2 separate regions of the Homo sapiens genome follow, and region 2 is linked to region 1. Evidence: fine-mapped expression QTL. A gene starts in region 1. The other region holds a variant in brackets. All regions are shown on one strand. Distances are from middle to middle.

The links. PIP is the estimated chance that this variant, and not a neighbour inherited with it, causes the effect.
Region 2: its variant is the best candidate, but not a certain one, in a credible set for the expression of BFSP2 in spleen (GTEx, PIP 0.54).

What each region holds. Positions count from the first base shown.
Region 1 is chr3:133,397,700-133,402,093 of GRCh38, forward strand. BFSP2 (beaded filament structural protein 2) reads left to right here and starts at 2,357. Exons shown (of 7, transcript NM_003571.4): 1 at 2,357-2,873. The coding sequence starts at 2,385. TMEM108 (transmembrane protein 108) reads left to right here. Exons shown (of 6, transcript NM_023943.4): 6 at 1-76.
Region 2 is chr3:133,451,883-133,456,276 of GRCh38, forward strand. The region is part of intron 4 of BFSP2 (beaded filament structural protein 2); the gene reads left to right. BFSP2-AS1 (BFSP2 antisense RNA 1) reads right to left here. Exons shown (of 4, transcript NR_189064.1): 2 at 3,447-3,581. Among named protein-coding and RNA genes, the nearest start is that of BFSP2-AS1, 37 kb to the right of the region's middle. The variant A/G (reference allele first, on the strand shown) is at 2,624.

The DNA.
Region 1 (4,394 bases):
TATGACTTATTTTTCCTTATCCACAGATTTCAGCTACCATGTATATATAAATAAACTTATTTTATTAGCCAGAGGATTCTGTTGCTAATACATTTTGCATTCTTTTCAAGATAAGCTCTAAGTCTTCCTTAAGCAGTACCAACACCACTTTATATCCATCTGTATTTTTTAATCTGATTTAACAGTAAGTTGAGTTTTATGTATGTGATGAGCTAATAGGATTAGCAGTTTATCATTTGATAAAATAAATCTTTTTGAACATGTTTGCAGTTTCTCCAAAACAGACTCATCTTTCATCAGGTCTTTGGAGACAGTGGTGTCAAAGTACATCCCCCCCTCTTTCTCCCTGTCTCCAGGGCTGAGTGGATTTATATAGTAAATATCTTTGGTCCGGAGAAGTCTGAAGTTAACCTGGCCATTGAGTGTTACCATTCTGTAGAGAATAACAATGCCTAAACATGACACATTTGTGCACAACTTAATCAGTAGCCTGAACTTTTCATTCAGCCTTGGACAATACATCTTGGAATTCACAATAATGCAGATCCTCAGAACCAAGTCAGTGTCATCCGTATAGGAGGCTGTTACTGTAACACAGGCTCGCATGCCCCTTCTGGGTGCATCAGGGGTGGTGTTCACAGCATTAATGCTACATCTGAATAAACAAGGACACTACTGGCCTTTACTTAATCCAATTGGTTCTTTCATCTGTTCATCAAATAGCCAACACTGATATTTATAAAATACCTCCCAGGCCATCTCAGAGAGACAAAGTGGAAGACAATAAAGAAAGGAAGGGTTGGAGTGTCCTGGTCAGTAGGAAGGAAGTGCACACAGGGTCCTCTAGTAGGCGACCAGGTTTTTTACCTCTACCTGCGTGACCTCAGGTAGGTACTCTGCTCTCTGGGTGGTGGGCAACAGGGAGGCTCCTAAGTAAGTCAGTGGCCCAGAGTTTGGAAGAGGTTGTCTGCCCCCAGCTCTGCTACTTTCTGGACATAGAACCTTGGGCAAGTCATTGCAGCTCTCGGGGTCCTCCTCACATAAGAGGACAGTGGCCAACTGTAGGACATGTCATTTTAGAGCTGTGAGGTACACAGCCCATATGGCAGTACCTGTCAACCCTGGACCTCCTTCCTCCTGAGGTTGAGTTGAGAATTCCACGAAATAAACCATAGGATTCATGCACACACCAGGCTGGATCTGCTACTCACTAGAGATTGACTCCCTTCTCCTTCTCTCACCTGAGGTACATTCCTACATTACAGCATCTGGAAAAGTATCCAGCTCTGGGGTTTGGTGACCTGGTTTCTCCAGGGTAAAACTTATGTACAGAGGTTTTTAGGTCCATGTTGTCATCCTGTAACTGGGGGAACCTTTCTGATCCTAGAGAAGTGATTGAGGTGTGACCCTTGGTGGCTTAGTGGATGCCAAGGTCAATAATTAAAACCCAGGGGTGTCATCATATCCTAACTTGGGGCACCCTTGGAGAGGCTTACCAGAAAACACCCTCGTTGTTGTTTTTATTTCTCAGTTTTCCAACAGATGGAGAAGCAGAGGTGTAGGGAATGGCCGGAACATGTGTGGGATCTGAATTTGCCCAAGGTCCTTATCTGGTGCATCAGAGAGTTAAAGGCCCAAGCCAATGTTCAGACAGTGAGGTCCAGAGGGAGGAAGCATCCTGGCCAACAGCAAGCAGCTGATGAACAGCAGAGCATTAGAGGACAGAGATGAGGAGGAAAGGAGAGAGGTGAGGGAAGGACCTGAAGCTGCTGCCAGGACTGAGAGAGGAAACCATAGGCAAGTCTTTTCTCTTGGGTCCCTGGAGCTGCCTCCTGCCATTTTTCATCCTCTATTGCCTGTGTGGACATGTGTTCACATTCACATGTGCCAGCACACATAGGGATGTAGAAAGCCCTGAAATAGCTAGATTGAGTCCTAGCTTGTAATCTGAGGTCTGGGGCAAGTGATCAGTACACTTGTCATCTGAGGTCCTTGAGCCTCAGTTTACTCATCTGTAAAATGGGGTTGCTTGATGCCTGCCTTGCCCACTTAGGTAGTAAAATGCACAAACCCAAATGGTCTACCTCCACAGCCTGCACTGATCCAGCCTCCCCCACCACCAGCAGAATAATCTGGGAGGTTGGGCACATGACCCTGCATCAAAGAATGCATGAGTGCCTCTCTGCACACAGCCCTGGGCAGTGCCCATTTCTCTTTCAGCTCAGTGAATGATGGAAACTCATGGAAGACAGCAGACAAAGCAGCCCCAGGGATAGGGGAGATTCCAGAGAGGCCCGTGACCAGGCCACAGGGATGCTGGGGCTGTAAACCAAAAGCCACTGGACTCTGTAAACCCACTGGGCACCACAGAGGCAGAAGGGGTGATGAGTGAGAGGCGAGTGGTAGTGGACTTGCCCACCAGTGCCAGCTCCAGCATGCCCCTCCAGAGGCGCAGGGCGTCCTTCAGGGGGCCACGGTCATCATCCTCCCTGGAGAGCCCCCCAGCCTCCAGGACCAATGCCATGAGTGGCCTTGTCCGAGCACCCGGGGTCTATGTAGGAACAGCACCCAGTGGGTGCATAGGTGGCTTGGGTGCCCGTGTGACCCGCCGGGCCCTCGGCATCAGCAGTGTCTTCCTTCAGGGCCTGCGGAGCTCAGGCCTGGCCACCGTGCCGGCTCCAGGTTTGGAGAGGGACCATGGTGCTGTTGAGGACCTAGGGGGCTGCCTGGTGGAATATATGGCCAAAGTGCACGCCCTTGAGCAAGTCAGTCAGGAGCTGGAAACACAACTGCGGATGCACCTGGAGAGCAAAGCCACACGCTCGGGAAACTGGGGTGCCCTACGGGCTTCCTGGGCCAGCAGCTGCCAGCAGGTAAGTGTCCAGGCTGTGCCAAGGGCTTTGCAGAGGGCTGGGAGGGGCTGCTGAAGGCAGCGGGTAGGGTTGTGAGTAGGCTGAGGCCAGAGAAACTGACCATAATCCCCTACACTTTCACACTTAAAATGGTAATGATAACAACAATGCTACCTTTTACCGAGGTTTACTAGGAGCCCACGCTAGCCCCCATACGTGCACTACCCACTGTCTTCTTTAAACTTCAAAGAAATGCTATGCAGTGGATCATTCACTGATTGCATTTTTCAGATGAGAAACTGAGGCATGTAATTTGCCCAAGACTTCAAAGCTAGTAGAGGGATGGAGATGAGATTTGAACCTGAATTTTTGTGCCTCCAAAGTTGCATTTGCCCCATTACCCTGGGGCTGCCTCAGTCACCTTTACTGTTGAGAAGGGATTTTTACAGCTATTATCCAATCAAATACCATTGGATGGATGAGGTGTTAAGAACAATGAATAAATGGAGGTGTGTTCCTGTATCCACCTACAACCACGCTGTTCAATAGAAATATGAACTACATTGGTAATTGACAAGTTTCTATTACCCACAGTAAAACACGTAAAAAGAAGCAGGTGAAGTTAATATTATAGCTTATTTAACTCTATATGTCCAGAATGTTATTTCAACATGTAATCAATACAAAATATATTAATGAGGTAATTTACATTCAAGTAGAGCTTTCTGCGTGATGGAAATATTAATATCTTATATCTGCACTGTCCAATCTGGCAGCCACTAGCCATATATGGCTATCAAGCACTTGAAATGTGGCTAATGAGACTGAGGAATTGCATTTTTATTTTATCTAATTTTCATTAATTTAAATGTAAACAGCCACAGGTAGCTAATGGCTATCTTATTGGACAGGGAAGGATGCAGAGGTTTCATCTTTCTCCCTTGCTTGGTCAGCCCTGCTTTTCCCACTCTCCAGGGTGATTTCTGCGGAGTCTGGAGCACATCCATCATGTCTGGCCTGCAGCCTGTAGTTCTAATGCTGGGACTCCAGCCAGCATTACACCTCTCAGCTGGTCTCTCTGTGGATAGCTGGCTTCACCTCTCCTCCTCCTCTTTCTCTCCAGATGCTGGCCTTGGGATCCCTCTGAGCAAAATCAGTCTCTAACCCACCAGGGACTGCCAACTCAGACCCTTGGCCCCCTGGAGTCCAGTATGCAGCCTCCCAAGAGGAGGTCACAAAATTTTATTTGTGTATAGCTGGGGGAAGCTAAGCAGTTGCACACAGGGACTCCCCATTTGCCCCTCCTGCCTCCCACTTCATCCCAGGATGCTTCTCCTGCACTGCTGTCAGTGCCCACTGACAGCACAGAGTGCATGATGAACAGCACCATCCTCTCAGGCTCTCCCCCTGGTGCTGCTGTTCTGCTTGCATCCATCTGGGCTGCAAGGGAGAGCCATCTTAGAACAGTCCAGGGCCTTAACGCCTGTCAAATCTAAGAGGCAGCCATTCCTCCAGGATTCTTCACAACTGTCCTTATTCCAA
Region 2 (4,394 bases), 54 kb after region 1:
CTGACTTTGTAATCTTGAGACAGAGGATGAAAAGTGACAAGGAAGGAAAATGTGGAAAAGTAGAGAAAATAAGGTAGATGTCTGAGTTAAGGCAAAAGGCTGTTTCTGAGCTCTTGATTACTATTTAGTGGTTCTTGATCCTGGCTACGCAGCAGAATTATTTCAGAGCATTTTCAAAAATCGCCATCCCAGACCAACCAAATCAGACAGAGGAGAGGGACTTTGTGATTTTTAAAGCTCTCTGGATGATTCTAATATGCAGCCAGATTTGAGAACCATAAGAATTATAAAAAGCTATGAAAAGAAAAATAGGAGAGGCTTTTCTGTCCTTTCTCCCACCATACTCCCTCTATCCCCCAAGTATCAACAAGAACCTTCCCAGCAGGGTCTTCATCAATTCTGGATTCCCAAAATGTTCTCCAGCCTAGAAAACATCCTTTCACTCACCCATTTCTCCAACCCCTACCCCGTTTCAATAGCTTCCTTTCTTTCTAACCACCAATCATTGAGCCAGGTCACTACAAACACTTTTTTATGGCAAATAGAGCCTAGTTATTCAAAAAATGACTTCCCCTCGCCCCACCCAACCTGATGAGAAGTGGAGCAACACAGAGGTAAAGTGAAGCCATAGATTTGAGTTTGGTCCATTGCCTTTTTTAACAGACTCATGACAGATAACAGATAATTAATGGTCCTAGAGACCATCTGATCCCATTCCCTAATTTTAGGTGTGAGGAAACTGAGACCCAGAGAGTGCAGGTGACTTCCCACGATCACACAGCTGGTTGAGAGCTCCATAGTTCAACTCTCCTGTTCTTGGTCCAGAGACCTTTTCTCTGCATTGGGCTGCATCGTTTCTCCCCTGGCTCTGCTTCTAAAGCTAAACCTCAGAGGCCCAGCAGTTTGCAAACTTTGCTTCTGTCCCAGCCCTCCTGCGGTGTGCACCACACTGTGGTAACTGTTTCTTTGGGAAAGGACAGACTATTATAATTATCAGAAATAAATCCTTCATAGTATGAAAAAGAAAAAAAAAAGGTCATTATTATCTCCTCCTCACCCCTTGGAGAATCATCACTAGCCCAACAGTAACTCAAACATTAATTCTGAACAGATTCATTAGTGTTTTTTTAATAGAGTAATCTGAAAGCTACATCTCAGAGAAAACAGACAGTATTTGTTTTAGCTTGGCCAATGCTGCCTGGGCCTCTTGCAGAAAGGCAGAGCTCAGAAAATATTTGCAGAATGAGTGAATTCCTCTGATCATCAACAGAGATCTGAACTGACAGCCAGAATTCCTCCAATAAATAGTTTTGTCAGTTGCAGTTGTGCCCTCAGGGGCTGACATTTGCCCATCCTGAGCATCTCTTGTCGGTTTCTTGGCGGCATAGCATAAATGTGAAATGGCTTAGCACACACAGCTTTCAAAAGCTTTTGTAAAGAAAATGCAAGCATGCATTTAATTACCTTTCGGACCACAGAGGCTGAAAATTAATTAACATGATTAATTTATATCTTAGTTTAGGTTCCTTCAGAAGCAGATCCTGAAACAAATATTGGAGTTAAGGTAGTTTACCTGGAAGTTGGGGAGTTAAAAACCAACAAAATACCAGTAGAGGAGAAGCAAAGAAGGGAACCAACAAAGAATGCCTAATCAAACCAGTTACCACTGTGGGAGACTGACGTGTAAACCAAGAAGAATTGTGAGAAACGGTATAGACTACAGGAGAGGGGAAAGGCAAGGGAGCTGAGATGTTAATACCATCTCCCAACAGTTTTCTGCCATCTGCTATCAGAGTGGCCTTCCAAAGGCTTCAGAGAAACTCTCAGGCAAAAAGATGCAGAATCTGGCAGGGGGAACAGGAGAGCACTAAACTGCGAAAGCCTAAGGGATAAAGGTGGTACCATCAGCATCTGCTAGAACTTATCTGCCAATTCTGTTTATTTTTTCAGTCATTAAAAGCTTAATAAAATAGAGACATAAAAAAATTTATTAAGAGGTTCTGGCTAAGGTCAGTGCAGTATTCATATTCTTTCCAGCTATGGTGTTACGAATGTCAGGAACCTCATGGTCCAGTTTTTGAAGCTTCTGAAGTTGTATGATTCAGTGATGACAGGATCAGATTGGTCCAGAGAATTTCTGGAGGGTCTTAAAGTCTAGTTCTTCCTTGTCTATTTGTTGTGGTTACCTAATGCAGGGTACTCAGGGATGCTTCAGGAACCTCAGACAACATGCCACACCACACTCTAGACCTCCTAGTTAGTCAAGTAAAACAAAACAACTTTTTTTTTAAGTTGGGCACTGTGGCATGTGCCTGTAGTCCTAGCTATTCAGGAGGCTGAGGCAGGAGGATTGCTTGAGGCCAAGAGTTCAAAGGAGAAGTACACTATGATCATGCCTATGGATAGCCACTCTACTCCAGCCTGGGCAACATGGTGAGACCCCATCTCTTTTTTAAAAAATCCTTTTTGTCCCCTATGCTCTTACAAAATGCTTCTGACACCAAATATGTAGGTTTGTTCCACACCAAGCAGATCTCCAAACACCAACTGAGTGTCCTATAATTCAATTCAATCCTGACACTACCTGCCTGAAGTAGTATCAGATCCCACAGGTTAAGGGCTC[A/G]GTCCCATAAGACAGCCCTCACTTCAGATGACAAGTCTGGCCCTCCCATACTTCGGATGAACTGGCTATAAATTAGGGGTTCCCACAACCTCCTCTGCAGAGGGATAAGTAGATAGTTTGCTAGAACAGTGCCCAGAACTCAAGGAAACACTTTACATATTTTTGCCAGCTTATTATAAAGGATACAATTCAGGAGCAGCCAAATGGAGGAGATGCTTAAGGCAACGTATGTGAGAAGGGGCACAGAGTCCCCAACTCCAAATTTTTGACTCTATTATAATAACACTTGGCTTAAAATGCAAACACGTCATACAGCTATACAAAAATATTCTTTCTTTTATCCTTATTCTATAAGCTTGTTTTCTATTTTTAAGAGGGGGTTTTTTTAACCTTTTAAACTTTTTTTGTTAAAAACTAAGACACATACATACACATTAGCCTAGGCCTACACAGGGTCAGGATCGTCAATATCACTGTCTTCCACCTCCACATCTTGTCCCACTGAAAGGTCTTCAGGGGCAGTGACATGTGTGGAGCTTTCAGCTCCTGTAACAACAATGCCTTCTTCTGGAATTCCTCCTGAAGGACCTGCCTGAGGCTGTTTTACCGTTAACTATTTTTCTTTTTTAATAAGTAGGAGTATGCTAATGATAAAAAGTATAGATACAGTAAATACATAAACCAGTAACATTTACTATTGTTAGCAAGTGTTATGCACTGCACATAATTGTATGTGCTAGACTTTTATATGACTGGCAGTGCAATAGGTTTGTTTACACTGCATCATCACAGGGTCTCACAAAGCTGCAATCAAGGTACCCACCAGGGCCGCATTCTCATCTTCAGAGTTTGTTCGGGTTCTTGGCATCGTTCAATTCCTTGCAGATGTAGGCTTGAGGTCCTCAACTCCTAGAGGCCAGTCCTCCTCAGAGGCCATTTACAACATGGCTGTTTGCTCCTTCAGGGCCAACAGAAAAGCATTACCATTTTAAGCCTTTAATCTGATTAAGTCAGGCCCACTCAGATACTCCTCTTTTGATCAGCTCAGATTTAGCTGATTTGGAACCATAATTACATGTCAAAATCTCTTCATCCTTGTCATCTAACATAATTTAATCATTGGACATAACACCAGAGAGCAGAGATCATGGAGGCCATCTTAGAATTCTGCCTACCAGGCCCCTCAGTGTTGAGCAGAGAACTAAAACTCTGCCCCTCCCCAAACCCCCACCATCTCACCTCCTCTGCCAGGCAAACAGCTCTGCCCTCAGCCCACCTCCTGTAGGGGAGCACGGGTCCCGTCTTTCTTGTCCAATTTCTCAGCCGGGGCACTGAGACGTCTTTGTTCCCTCACCCTAAGCCTGGTCTGAAGTCTGCCTCCTGCAATGCAAGCTCTGTTTTGCCTTCTTAGCCTTCTTCCTGAGATGCTCCTTCCATTCAATTTCCATTTGCCCAAAGCTGACTCCACACTTTCATTCCCAGAGGCCTCATTTCTCCATCCCTTGCCTGCTGCAACTGGTTGATGTATACAATACCCAAAGGCTTAATCAATCACCAGCACAAGTTGGTGGTTGCCCGGATGTGAGAGAACTCAGTCTGTCTTAAGAGTCCCCAGGGTCAGGAACAAATGGATTGCTCCCATGCTATCTTCTCTAACAGCAGGTCTGCACTTGCCTCAGGTCAGTTTGAGGCATCTGCGGTCAGGAACTTTATCTGAGCTGTAACCATCATGCCTTCATGTCACATGTCAGGATGACAGATTGTGCAAACT